Regions from separate parts of the Homo sapiens genome. Here region 2 is linked to region 1. The links come from fine-mapping of genetic effects on gene expression. Tissue or cell type: whole blood. Region 1 holds a variant in brackets; the other region holds the start of a gene. All regions are shown on one strand. Distances are between the middles of the regions.

Region 1 (2,758 bases):
AGGCAGAGGTTGCAGTGAGCCAAGATCGCACCACTGCACTCCAGTCTGGGCAACAGGGTGAGATTCTGTCTCAAAAAAAAAAAAAAAAAAAAAAGAAAAAAGAGAAATGCCAAGAATTACATTTCTGACAGCTTCCCTGTAGTGCTGCTGCTGCTGTTGCCATCTAACATTAAAGTTCCATGGCACATGACTGCTCTCTTTCCTTTCCCCTGTTTTGGATTACATATATAAATGGAGGAGTTTCTGCCTATACAAACTGTTTAATATTGAAAATGTTTCTCTCCCTCCAGACTATGAAGAAATCGGGAGTGCACTTTTTGACTGTAGATTGTTCGAAGACACATTTGTAAATTTTCAAGCAGGTATATGAGTTATATAACATCTGAGCAGCATAGTTTTGAGAAATATTTATCACGATATTGAAACAATATACTGTACAGGTGATAAAAATATTTTAGAAGAATGTTCATTGTTTTCTTAAATGAGAAAAGCCAATTACAAAAACAGTATGACCCCGCCCACCTGCCCACACACACAGGAAAAAAATATCGAGGTACATGTGCACAGACAAAAGCTGCACCTGGTGGAGACAGTAGTTGGTTGTAGGTAGTTGGAATATAGTGATTTTTGTCTGTTCTTTTACTGCTATATTTTCCAGATTTTCTATATACACACAAATACTTTTATAATGAGAAAAACTCATTAAAAAAGTAGAGACAACAAAAAATTGATTCAAAAATTGGAGCATATTTTGGCCTGTGTGTGGCCCAGGCAGGAGCTGGTAAAGCTTCCTGCGGCTTCTCTGCTCTTGGGTGGCGAGGCTATGATAAACCATCCCTCCGCTTGCCTCCCTCTCGCTTGGTGAGATAGGTCAAAATTTTAATTCTCCCACTATTAATCCTCAAATCTAATTTAATTTCTTATCAGGGAGGGTTACGACTGATTTAAAGTTCATCAGAAAAAAAAAAAACAAAAACAAACAAACAAAAAATGAGCAAGTAAGAATAGCCAAGAAATGTTTGCAGTAGAAAATCTCGTTTGGTTTGGAGGAGGGAGATTTAACCTTCCTATTAAATATCAACCATTTATTGAGTGAGTCCTCCTTTCAGCATTAAGATGCCCTCAAGACAGGCTACACCTCCACTTGTTTATGAGTCTGGTCTGACTTCTCTATCAAGGCTGCCACACACAGCTGGGCAGGCCGGGCACAGAGTCAAACAGCATTGGTGGATGGCTCCCCCTGAAGTTGCACAACAGAGTGAGTGCCCTCCACACTCTGCATTTCCACAGATG[C/T]ATCTGTCTCTCCAGCATATGGTAGGAAGACAATAAGATTTCCCTGTGAAGAAATCATTAGTTCATATCCCTGTCTCAACATACACAACCTTTCTCATTTTGGCTTCTATATTATACATTTCTATTTGAATTTTTTACTACATTTATAACCAGCAGGAAAAATACTTTGAAAAATCTACCAAAAAGAGTGTCTGTCTTAATAGTCTTTTGAGGATGTCTGCTAATATATAGCAGTATCCATATTTTTTTAAAGCAGCCTTAAAAATTTTTTTCTAAAAAGAGTTATTTTGTAGGGGACTTCCATGTGTGTTTTTCTTTCATGTAAGGGAACATGTCACACATCACTACTTGGATGGATTAGGTGGGAGTACATATATTATAGTGTAGTATGGCGGGGGTGCCACTACTTAGAACTGCATGAGATTCAACTTAAAAGGCTTAAGTTGGGTTTCACTACCCTGGTTGATAAAAACTTGCTTAATTTAGCCTTACTCATATTTTAAGTTAACTATACGTATGCAGTTATTCTGAATAAAGTTTGTATATGTGTGTAACTGTTCGATTTTGAGGCTTTTAAAAATTACATTGCCATTGACTACTATTTGTTATTTATAAAGCCTAAGTATCTTCCTCCTAAGCTTTTCTAAGTTTCCACAATTAAAAGCCTTCCTATTTCTAAATGAAACCAAAAGCCTTTATGTAACATTAAAAATTGGACACATTTTTAGGAAGGATTTGTCCTTAACCTTGGTATTCTAGCCACATTCTCCAATTATCATCTCTCAATAAATGGATATAGTATAGCATGAAGGTTATACAGTCACTGTTTTCAAGTTCTCAAAGATATACAAAGGGACTTGTTCTGCTATAAATGTGCACAAAATCTTAAGGGTTTACTGAACAGCTTTGTGTATGATAAATGTTAGAATTCTGTCCTGAATTAGAAGGAGGAAGTGAAGGCATAAAGAAACCAGCTCCTGCCCATAAGGCTCTGGATCCTTTTCACCAGAGGCACGAGGATTGTGTATCTGTACCTGCAAGTGAAAGGGGCTAGAAATGGTACATTATTTCTAATAAAACTACTGAATAAGCTGAAATAATTTTATTTCTTCTTTTCATAGCAATAGAGAAAAAAATTCATGCATCTCAACAAAGGTGGCAGCAGTTGAAGGAAGAGATTGAGCTACTTCAGGACTTAAAACAAACCTTGTGCTCTTTTCAAGAAAATAGAGATCTTATGTCAAGTTCTACATCAATATCATCCCTGTCTTATTAGGGATTACCGTTTCCTAAGCCAAGAGTCATGTCAAATTGCAATCAGGCTCAAAACCAGAGACCAGGCTGTGAAATCCACACATCTTTAGAACTAGTCGTCTCCTCTTGGCCTCAGCAGCTCTTCCCTGTTCTTACTGGTTGACATTTTGATCACTCTTTGCACACTCTTGTGTTTTTTGCTCACTGTCAC
Region 2 (2,758 bases), 58 kb after region 1:
TAACTTTTTGTAAAACCAGAGAATATTTTGAAATGTGTCCGAATGCCCTGCCTAGATTCTAGACTCTGTGAGGCCCCAGCCTCCTTTCCTATGCATGACTTACTGTTTAATGTAGTACACACAGAAGGGATATCATCATCATAATAAAGGTCCTCACTTTCCTTCACAGTTTCATCTACCCCACAATGACTCCCAGGAAAAGGAGGGTACTGTTTCAGACTTCCCAGCTCCCGTATATTAGGTGGAGCCAAGTTCTTGCTGCAGCATACGGGCACGCTTTAAAATTTTCAAATCATTTTTTAAAAGCTACAAGCTTGACAGCTTTGGGTTTTTATGGCTACTTGTTTTCTGAAGTTCACAGAACTTTATCATTTGGATCACACACTTAAAAAAATCACTTGCAAAAATCTCTTTAAAGATGAATATGCTTCCTCTTCAAGAGAAACAGACTAGCGGGTAGAAGAAAAAGGACCCGTCTAGAGTATTAATAAATAGACTGATATTCACACAATGGATTAAATGGATTAAAGTCCATCCCACAGATGAACTGTTATATTAATAGAATCCAAATATACAGTTACATCCTCGACCCTGAAAGCAGTTTAAACGGGTGAAATTCACCCAGTGCTCACTTGAAATGAGTACTCTAAAGTTTAAAGCACCTATAAACTGCCCTCAGGATTCAATCATTTTTCCATTCCTTCCGGCATTATATACTTTGATGTTTTAATGTTATTAGCCCACAATACACACCAGTTTCAGAAACTCAGTTTTTGTCCTCTAAGGGCTTTTAGTCCTCCCAAAAAAAGAATAGGGCAAAAGCAAGGAAGATCATGAATCTGGTTTTCTAAAAGCATTATTACAAGACTGCTTTATAAAATTGTAATCCCCAGCTGCAGAGTTCCGCAGATGGCTTGAAAGTGTCTTACATGCAAATAAATAAAAACAAAAGGCCACTTATGCGAGCAGAACACAGCGTGCTCGATAGTCATCTTAAACCGAGCAGGTAGGTACTTTATCAGAGGCAGACAAGGGAAACGTCACTTATTTAGAGTTCACCGCACGCCTGGATAAAAGTCCTCACTAACAAAATCCCTGCCTTTGTGGATTCTGTGTCGGAAAGGGAAACGATAAAGAATACGGTTTGTGACAGCACTACTCTCAGGAGACGAAGGAGAGATGCTAAGATCTTGGAAAGGAGAGAGAATAGGAAGAGTCGGAGGGGAGATCTCCTCTCAGTAAAACGGCACCCACAGCAGTCAGACTTCAGCTACGAGCAAAATCGAGTCCGTGCACCTCAAAAAAGAGAGGGAGGCAGGGAAAACTTTCCCTCGCCTCTCCCCATCCTTCCCTCCTCCTCGCAGGAGAGCACATTAGCTGAGGTGCTGGCGGGGCCGGGCCGGGGACCCCATCCCTCGCCCCGGACGCAGCGCCCGCAGGGACTGCCCGGGAGCCCGAGCGAGGGAGGCGGGAGGTACAGGAGTAACGGGGCACTCCCGGCCCGGCCTGCGGGGAAGGGAAGCAGGGGCAGGGCCGAGGGGGAAGAGGCCTCCGCGAGCTCGACCCCGCGCCCACACGCTACCTGCGAGGTCAGCTGCTGCCGCGCCGTCCCGCGGGACCGCAGGGATCTCCGAAGCTCCAATGGGCGCAGAAGTGCGAGCGAGCGGCGGTGCCCACCGGCAGCGAAGAGGAGGAGCGCCAGGGCGCCGGGCCCGCCGGGTCACGTGGCCCCGGCCGCCTCACGTGACCCGGTGCAGCGCGCGCCCGGGACGCTACCCAGCCGAGCATCCCGCACCGCCCCGGCCCCGGCCCCGGCCGAAACCCTGCTCTTCGGGCCCTACAACCCGACTTCTTTAGAAGCCGATTGGCCGTCTCAGGCCCGCCCCGAGGCCCTGCCACTGGAGTGTCCCCATGAAATCCGGTGGCTGCTGCCGGGACTTAGAGGCTTTTGTGTCTGAGGAACCAGGAACGCGCGAGGCACGGGCTCCTGCTCTGCTCCCCGAGATGGCTTGGCTGTGGGGAGGGTCGGCCTACCACCCCAGAGACCTAGGACGGAAAAGCGACCGAGAAACTTGGCTCCCTGCCCACTCTAGAGCGCGTCTGGCCCCGGGGCACCACCCAGGTGGTGCTGCCTGGGAGGAAAGGCGGCGGAGCTGGGACTAGTTTGTTTTTACTGGAGACGCGCCTCCCTCCCTCCCCGCCCCTCACTTCCTGATTGAAAGTACCTGAGGCAGGCCAGGGACTAGGGAAGGTGGCAGCTGGACAAAGGTATGAAGGAAGGACGAGATGAGGCACAGGTCCTGGTATTGGAAAGAGGCAGAGGTACCTCGGAAGCATGCCATAGAGGTTAGACGGGACCTAAGAGGGCATCTGGTCCAACCGGATTCGTGTTACCAGCGAGTAAACTGAGGCCAGGAGAGGGACTGCTACGAGCTGCTCCAGCCTATCACCTATAAAGACTACAGTCCCTTTGTAAAATACCATACAGCTCTCGGAGAACTCCCAGTTGGCGCTGCAGGATAAAATCCAAACTTGTTGGCATAGCATTCCAGCCACTTGTTCACTTACCTTTCCCATTTGAGCTCCTAGGAATAAACAGAAAAACATTTCATTTTCTAAATATCACCAGATAACTTCACTTTTGGTAACTTGAATTATTAAAAAAGTCCTACCGTCCCTCATCTCTTGCCACTTCCCCAACATTACTGGAGGCTCTGGCTACAAATAATTTGTTTTCCTTGACTACTCAACTTTCTTT

Evidence for each region. PIP is the estimated chance that this variant, and not a neighbour inherited with it, causes the effect.
Region 2: it holds the start of RCBTB1, and the variant in region 1 is fine-mapped to the expression of RCBTB1 in whole blood (GTEx, PIP 0.90). The same link has a PIP of 0.9 or more in monocytes.

The regions. Positions count from the first base shown.
Region 1 is chr13:49,526,097-49,528,854 of GRCh38, forward strand. SETDB2-PHF11 (SETDB2-PHF11 readthrough) reads left to right here. Exons shown (of 21, transcript NR_135324.2): 20 at 291-362; 21 at 2,415-2,758. PHF11 (PHD finger protein 11) reads left to right here. Exons shown (of 10, transcript NM_001040443.3): 9 at 291-362; 10 at 2,415-2,758. The coding sequence ends at 2,569. Among named protein-coding and RNA genes, the nearest start is that of PHF11, 32 kb to the left of the region's middle. The variant C/T (reference allele first, on the strand shown) is at 1,294.
Region 2 is chr13:49,583,862-49,586,619 of GRCh38, forward strand. RCBTB1 (RCC1 and BTB domain containing protein 1) reads right to left here and starts at 1,697. Exons shown (of 13, transcript NM_018191.4): 1 at 1,583-1,697. RefSeq lists a silencer at 1,221-1,930.